3 separate regions of the Homo sapiens genome follow, and regions 1 and 3 are each linked to region 2. The links come from fine-mapping of genetic effects on gene expression. A gene starts in region 2. Each other region holds a variant in brackets. All regions are shown on one strand. Distances are from middle to middle.

Evidence for each region. PIP is the estimated chance that this variant, and not a neighbour inherited with it, causes the effect.
Region 1: its variant is the best candidate, but not a certain one, in a credible set for the expression of LINC01579 in sigmoid colon (GTEx, PIP 0.73).
Region 3: its variant is the best candidate, but not a certain one, in a credible set for the expression of LINC01579 in prefrontal cortex (CommonMind, PIP 0.89).

What each region holds. Positions count from the first base shown.
Region 1 is chr15:94,094,167-94,096,930 of GRCh38, reverse strand. All of the region lies in intron 1 of LINC01581 (long intergenic non-protein coding RNA 1581), which reads left to right. The region is part of intron 1 of LOC105369203 (a long non-coding RNA gene); the gene reads left to right. Among named protein-coding and RNA genes, the nearest start is that of LINC01581, 12 kb to the left of the region's middle. The variant GTA/A (reference allele first, on the strand shown) is at 1,259.
Region 2 is chr15:93,898,884-93,901,647 of GRCh38, reverse strand. It overlaps LINC01579 (long intergenic non-protein coding RNA 1579), which reads left to right and starts at 1,049. Exons shown (of 4, transcript NR_138083.1): 1 at 1,049-1,297; 2 at 1,513-1,612; 3 at 2,312-2,384. LINC01580 (long intergenic non-protein coding RNA 1580) reads right to left here and starts at 947. Exons shown (of 3, transcript NR_120323.1): 1 at 870-947.
Region 3 is chr15:93,174,007-93,176,770 of GRCh38, reverse strand. No RefSeq gene overlaps it. Among named protein-coding and RNA genes, the nearest start is that of RGMA, 86 kb to the right of the region's middle. The variant A/G (reference allele first, on the strand shown) is at 1,646.

The DNA of each region.
Region 1 (2,764 bases), 200 kb before region 2:
TTTTTTTCAAATTTCTGCTCAAATATCATATCCTTTGAAAAGTCTTTCCTGACCATTTTACCTCTGTCACTCTCTATCTCCCTATTCTTTGTTTTTCTTTATAACCCTTATAATTCTTTTATTATATTACCTATGTAAACATTTACTTACTACCCATTAGAATATAAGCATGGTGGTTCACCCCCGTAATCCCAGAACTTTGGGAGGATAAAGTGGCTGGAGATACCTTGGGCTCAGGAGTTCCAGACCAGCCTGGGCAACATGGTGAAACCCTTTCTCTACAAAAACACCAAATATTAGCCTGGTATTGTGACTTGTGTCTGCAGTCCAAGCTACTTGGAAGGCTGAGGTGGGAGAATTCCCTGAACCCAGGAGGCCGAGGCTGCACTGAGCCGAGATCATGCCACTGTACTCCAGCCTGAGGGATGGAGTGAGACCTTGTCTCAAAAAAAAAAAAAAAAAAATTATAAGATCAAGTACTTCATCTGTTTGTTCACTCTTCACTATGGACTACTCACTGTTCAGAGGAGTCCCTGTTGCACGCAAGTTACCCAATAAATCATCATTAAATAAATGAATAAATTAGTGCTTCAGTATAAATGTATGACTTTGTTTAACCCCTAGCACACGAGGAGAATATTTCCCCTTACTCTCGCCAACAATAGTAAGCTTTTAACGTTTGCGTGAGCAACAGAAAATGCTAAATGGCACTTACCGTGGGCTGGGTACTGTTATAGGTACTACATATATGAAAACTTATTTCATCCTTACAACAATCCTTTTACTGATGACAAAACAGAGAAGTTGAATAACTTGCCTGTGGACCGTGTAGCTAGTAAATGGTAGAATGAAGTTGCAAACCTTAAGCCCATGTTCTTAATCATTTTACTTTACAATTTCATTATTCCATTAAAAATGCTACCTATGACCAGGAGAGGTGGCTCACGCCTGTAGTCCCAGCACTTTGGGAAGATCACTTGAGGTCAGGAGTTCGAGACCAGCCTGGCCAACATGGTGAAACCCCGTCTCTACTAAAAATACAAAAAATAGCTCAGTATGGTGGCGGGCTCCTCTAATCCCAGATACTCAGGAGGCTGAGGCAGGAGAACCCTTGAACCTGGGAGGCGGAGGTTTCAGTGAGCTGAGATCGTGCCATTGCACTCCAGCCTGGACGACAAGAGCGAAACTCCTGTCTCAAAAAAAATGCTACCTATTGTTATTTTATTTTGCATTGCTTCTACTACTGGTGTGTGTGTGT[GTA/A]AGAGACTTTTGTATATTTAATGACCATTTGTATATTTTAATATAAAATACAACTGCAGGTTCTTTGCTCTTCATTTTTTTCCAACATAAGTTGGGATTTTGATCTTCCTCTGATTTATTCATAAGAATCTTTTATATTTATATTTCAGGGCTACTAAATCTTTGTCAATGGCGATTTTTCTTTGACGAATAAAACAATTTTTATATAGTCAAATGGAGCAATTTTTTTTCTTTTAGACTTTCGGGCTTTAATGATGTGTTAGCAAATGCTTCCCTATGATTTAATTTTTATGTGATAATTTCATTTTTAAAATAATCCTTTGCCTTTAAAAAATATATAACGTGACTTTGAATCAGACCAACTATCCCAGTAGTCTCCAACATGGCTGTACATTAGCATCTCCCATGTGTCTGAGTCAGATCCTGAACCAACTGAATCAGAATTTCTGGAGTTAGATCCTGCATATCTTTACATTTCAGATGTGAACCCCAATGATATATCTTTCTTTCTGATGTTTCTTTTTTGTATACTAGTAAAATAATCACCCAATCAGGGATATGATGTACTGTAACCTTTCTTCACCTGACAGTATATATTAAGTTTTGTTATCAGCATTATTGCAGTGTTGTAAAAGTTGTCTGCAAGTTTTCTTCTTCTGCTACCTCCTGGGACAATTTAAGTTGTAAAATGATTTCTTTTATTCTTATTCATCTCTACATTTAAAAATATCTCTTGTGTTAATTCCGGCAATTTGTATTTCTATATAGAAATTATCTCCATTAAAACTTTAAAATATAGTTCTAGATTTTTTGATTCCCCCAGTATTTTTGGTTTTCAGTTAGAGCCCTAGCAAGTCTATATAAAATACACTGAGGATGGTAATCTGATGGGGTTATGGTGGGAGCTATTCTTAGACTTGTATGGAAGCTCTGTTTGCATAGCATTTTATCTGAATTTGAAGAAAGATCCATTGTCTGTGTCAAATATTAATATTCCAGAGATGTACACAAAGCAGATTTTCATGTATTCACTGTCTCTTTTCAAGGATATGGCTTCCCCTATAACTCCTAGATAGGATCTGGAAAGGAATACAATTCTAGTCCCTTAATAGCATTAAAAGTAGGAAGAAAGATGTTTCAAAGTGAATGAGTCATGTAATGTTTGCCATTGTTTTTACCCTCACTTTCTATAATATGTACCATAAATCTCTATTTCACTTTGAGACGAATTGTGTCTTCTATACATTTTTTCCTGAATAAAGAAATGCCTGTCTTATTATCACAGATTGGCTCTTTGTGTTGTTAAACCTTTACAAAAAAGAAAAAAAAAAAGGCTTTTTAAAATAGAGAAAATACAGAGTATCTGTAAGACTCCTTTCAACTATTATTTATATGCAAATAAATATCTACAATTACTCCTGCCAGATAGAAGGTGAAGAGTGTTAACAAGCATAGGCGCATAAAACTCAGGTTTTCTATGCGGAAGTTGGGATAATCTGATCCT
Region 2 (2,764 bases):
AAAGCAACAAAGTGAGACCCTGTATTTCTCAAACAAACAAAAACAAAAAACAAAAAACAAGAAGGAAGAAAGAGAAGAAGAAAGAAAAGAAAAATACATAAATAAAAATAGACACATAGACATGCTGTAGAGTTATTACGGGCATACAGTGTGCCAAGCACATATGTATGAGCTTTACATATAGTGACTTTCATAACAACCCTATAAAATAGAATGACCATAGTTACAGAAGTAGTCACAATAGTAATTGTAGTAGCAGCAGTGATGGCACCGGCCACCTGTCTGGAGCGGCCGCTGCAAAGACACCGGCTGCACCAGGGGAGGTGCCGCCAGAGCTGCGCACTCAGCAAAGCCAGGGTGGGTGGAGGGCCGGGGCGGGGGGAGCTGGGAACAGGCAGGGGTCCCGCCCCCTACCGAGCTAAAGGGTGGGGAACCCGTGCTAGGGGCACAGCTGCAGAGCTGCCGCCGCAGACCCAGGCATCCCTGTGCTTTCGGGGGGCCAGGAAGCCCCTGACCCCACAGGTTCAGCAGTGCCTGCTTGCTCCCATTCCTGGCCTCTGCCTGCTCCCTGTGCCCACTTCAATTTTGGAGCAAAGTGATGGCCAAGCCTGGGTGCTGCTGCAACCTGGCCAGGCGTGCGCATGCTCAGGGAGGCGCTGTTACACCAGCCCCCTGCCTCCTCAGCCCCCTCTGGACTTTGGGCACTGATGAGCACGGGAGAGAGGCGAGGAGGCGCTGTGGGCTGCTGGGCTCAGGCCTAGAGGCGCCCTTCAAAACGAACAGCCTGGGTGCTGTGGAGGGCACGTTGATGGCAGCAAAAGGAAGACAGGCTACTGGACAGAAAGGGACGGGTCCCAGTGAAGCCCCACCTTCAAGCCAGGGATGGCTTCAATCCTGGAGGCCGCGCTGTCAGTTCCGGTCGGAGTCTGTGGCCTGGAGTGAGCACTAATGGTTCTTTTTCCAGGCCCGCCCATGGCCACCCATGGACCAATCAGCATGCACTTCCTCCCTTCTGAACCCATAAAAACCCCGCTCCCCGGACGCAGCCGGAGTCACGCGAAGTCGGAAGTACCAGCTGCGGGAAGGAGCTGCCCACTGTGCGTCTTCTCAACTTGTTGGGACAACCTTCCTGCGGAAAGGAGAGACAACCTTCCTGCAGAAAGGAGCTACCTGCTTCAGGTCTACTGAGAGCTGTTCTGCCACTCAATAAAGCTCTTCTCCATCTTGCTAAGCCTCCATTTGTCCGCAATACCTCATCTCCCTGGACGCAGGACAAGAACTCAGGACCCGCCTGGAGGTACTAAAAGAGCTTTAACACAAACAGGGCTGAAACACGCTCCCTTGCTTGCCACATTGCGGGTGACGAGAAGGAGAAAAGAGCTGTGTTCCTTTGAGGATCCCAGACCTAGGGTCTCCCTGAGCCAGGGCTGTGACACTCCCTTTGGGGTTCTATGGTTCCTGGCATCTTCAAGCTTCCAGGCGCCACCACCTTCGTTCCCTTCATCCAAACAGGTGCCCACAGCAGAATCCACATGCCGTCCATCTGGTCCAGCCTCACGCAGAGCCACAACTGTGCTGGCGCCTGGAGCTGCCAGCCCCACTGCAGCAGCCGGTATGTATGGCTGTTGCCGGTCCCTGCGCTCGTTCACCCACACACCCCTTGCGGCTCCGCGCCTAGCTCTCCCTGGGCAGGTGTGGGATCTGGGCTGGTGGCGGGAGCCAAGCACAGCCTACCGGGCCAAGTGGGCGGAACAAGCCCAGTGGGCACGAGCAATACTCAGGCAGAAGGTGCTGCCAGCAACAGAGGTTTCTGGCTGATGAAACGACACCTCAAGGATCCCATGACAGCAGTAATAGTAGCTGTGGTAGCAGTCATAATAGTAGTTATTGTACTAGCAGACGTAGTAGTTATAACAATAGTTATAATAGTTGTCTTAATAGCAGTGAGAGTAGTTACAGTAGCAGTTAAAATCGTTGTAGGAACAGCAACTACAAATACTTGATTGACTAACACTAGTACAACTAAGATATTTATAGTACTTACCATGCACCGGAGAGTTCACACACATTATTCTTTGCCTTTTGACCATTTTCCTCCTTTGAGATAATTGTCTCCTCATCTGTCTCTCCTCTCTCTCCTTTAGGCATTTCATCTGTGAAACTATTTATATCCCTTAAGGGATGCCCCTCCATATCTTTATATCTACTTCTCCTTCATCCCAGCTCCAATATTGTGTCTTACCATCATTATGTTTTGTAAAAGGAAAAAAGAAGCCATTCCCTACTTTAAACTTCTCTGCTTTGTATCTAGGACTGACATTCAGACGTGGAGCAAGTTGGACTGCATAGGGACCCACCAGTGAGATGGACGCTGTCTGTAAACGGTAGGGATGGCGGCCCGTCGCGGTGGCTCACGCCTGTAACCCCAGCACTTTGGGAGGGCGAGACGGGCGGATTATGAGGTCAGGACACCGAGACCATCCTGGCTAACACGGTGAAACCCCATCTCTACTAAAAAAAAAAAAAAATCAGCCGGGTGTGGTAGTGTACCTGTAGTCCCAGCTACTTGGGAGGCGGAGGCAAGAGAATCGCTTGAACCCGGGAGGCGGAGGTTGCAGGTAGCCGAGATAGCGGCATTGCACTCCATCCTGGGTGACACAGTGAGACTCTGTCTCAAAAACAAACAAACAAACAAACAAAAAGGAGTAGAGATGGCTGTGCTGGCCACACTCTGCCTCCATCCACCTTTCCTGACACTCTACTC
Region 3 (2,764 bases), 720 kb after region 2:
TTCTCTGAGAAGTACTTTTATTACTGTTATTTCTTCCTGTCCTTCAAACACCCCTGCAAGACAGACAGGAAGGCTACCAGTATTTTCAATTTGTAAATGAGGATCCAAGAAGTGAATGACTTGGCCGTAGTCATGGAGGTGGAGGCGAAATAAAAGACGCAGGCTATGCCCTTTGCGTGCCCCACCACCTTCTCAGATGGCGCTGGGCTACCTCCCAGGGCTTAGGCAGAGTGAAGAAGAAGAGATGAAAGCTAAGATGAGGCAAACAGGAGGTGAGAGAGAAGTTCTGTCAGGAAATTCACAGGAGGGCTGCAGAAAACTCATCTTTGCCCGCAATGCCTACTCCAGCCGGATATTAACACAGTGGGCTCCACACCAACATTCTGATAGATTCTGAGCTACAAGCTTCCAGAATATTAGCAGCTGAGCTCCTCCCCCTCGGGCCAAATATGCCACCAAAAAGCTGTTTCCCAGGTGATTTATTGTAGGTCAGAACCCTAATCAAGCTCCAATTCAATTTAACTGCTGGTGATTTTAGCACAGTGCTCTGAGCTTCCATTTAAATGCAAGGGGAATTGACTTTTGGAGTAACAGCTTCAGGGGAGGCTTTCTTCCCATGCCTAGATGGAGCAGAAGCTCACACTGTGCACCCAGCAATGAACTGGGACCCTTTTGGAGGCACCTGACTCGGGCTTCTGGATTCTGTCAGGAGGCAGATGTGCCATTACCAAGAGGCCAGGCATTAGAAAGTGCTCAGCACGGTTCTCGCAGGGCAAAGGCAGCCCCCTGCTCAACTCACTCATACCTGAGGAGATGTGAAGCAAAGGTCACGGAAGGCCCAAGGTACTCCTGGCACCCCTAGACCCCAAAATACAAAGGACCAACAGCGCCATCAGGCACACACTCTCTCTCTCTGCCCCTTGGTCTCCCTCTGTCTCTTCAACTCTATATCTCTGTCTCTCTTTGTGTCTCTACCTCTTTCTCTCTGTCTCTCTGTTTCTATCTCTTGGCCTCTCTCTGTTTCTGTCTCTATATATTTCTCTCTGTATCTGTCTCTATCTCTCTGTCTGTGTCTCTATTTCTCTCTCTCTGCATCTCCGTCTCTCTCTCTCCACATCTGTATCTCTGCCTCTCCCTCTGTGTCTCTATCTTTCTCTCTGTCTCTATCTCCTCCCAGGGCGGAGGAGCTCAGCTGCTAATATTCTGGAAGCTTGTAGTTCAGAATCTATCAGAATGTTGGTGGGGAGCCCTCCGTGTTGATATCTGGCTGGAGCAGGCATTGCAGGCAAAGATGAGTTTTCTGCAGCCCTCTCTCTGTCTCTGTTTCTGTCTCTGTCTATCTCTTTCTCTGTCTCTTTCTATCTCTGTCTCCATCTCTCTTATCCCTCTGTGCCTTTCTGTCTCTGTCTCTATCTCTGTCTCTTTGTCTCTGTCTCTATTTCTGTTTCTGTCTATCTCTGTCTCTCTTTCTGTCTCTCTGTCTCTGTCTCTCTCTGTCCCTGTCTCTCTGTCTGTCTTTCAGTCTCTGTCACTGTCTCTCATATGCTCAAGGGTATTTATGCTACGTGGGCATTTGCAAGGAGCTTTTGAGTCTGAGTTATCATCTGGGATTTCTATCAGGCTCCATCTGCTTCCAGAACTGTGT[A/G]CAAACAGTAACATCCAAAGCTCAGAAAAGGGAGGACATAAAACATTTTCATTTGTTCTGACCAGAAAAGCCATATGATCTAGAATGTGTGAAAGAAAGTCAGAAAAAATAAGGGAAAACAGATTGTCAGTGCTGGTCATAGCCCACAAGAGTCTCTCAGACCCAAACAATGTGGCCCAGACGTACATAAAACAAGCCCACAACATATGCCTGTGTCCAACAGCACAGCTTTCTGAGCCACTCCTCCTTGTCTACTGGAAGAGCAAATGAACCTGGTTGAAATCCTGGCTCTACAGCTTTCTACTATGTCATCTTGAGCAAATTCTTAACTTTTCTGAGCCTCAGTTCCCTCCACTGCAAAATAGGACTAGTAATTTCTACTATGTAGGAGTATCATGAAGATTAAACCCTTTAAAAACCTCTAGCATGGTGTCTACCACGTCACAAGGGTTCAGTAAATGGTAATGGTGGTGATGGCTGTTGTGGTGTGGTGATGGTGGCAAAGATGATGGCACTGAAGGTGGTAATGAGAGTGAAGGTGGTAATGGTGGCAGTGGTGGTGGTAGAGGGATGTGGTGATGGGAACTATGGAAGAGGAGATTAAGATGGTGCTGGTGGAGGTGGTAGTTGCAGTAGCAGCATCAGCATTTTAGGAAGACCAGGCATATCAGTGACAAACTGCTCCTGCTTGTCAGATGCATTTCTCCCTAAAAGACTTCCAGAATCACCATTATGCATTCCAATCCTGCTATGATTGGATATTTGACCCTCCAAACCTCATGTTGAAATTTCATCCCCGATCTTGAAGGTGGAGCCTAGTAGGAGCTGTTCGATCACAGGGGTGGATCTCTCATGAACAGCATGTGCTATCCTCATAGTAACAAGGGAGAGTTCCTGCTCTATTAGGCCCCAAAAGAGTCCCCTTGAGAGCTGGTTGTTAAAACAAGCCTGGCACCTTTTCCCTTGCTCTTGCTTCCTCTCTCATCATGTGATCTGCACACACCAGCTCCCCCTTCACCTTCTGCCTTGAGTGGAAGCTTCCTGAGGCCCTCGCCAGAAGCAGATGCCTATGCTACGCTTCTTGTACAGCCTGCAGAACCGTGAGCCAAATAAACCTCT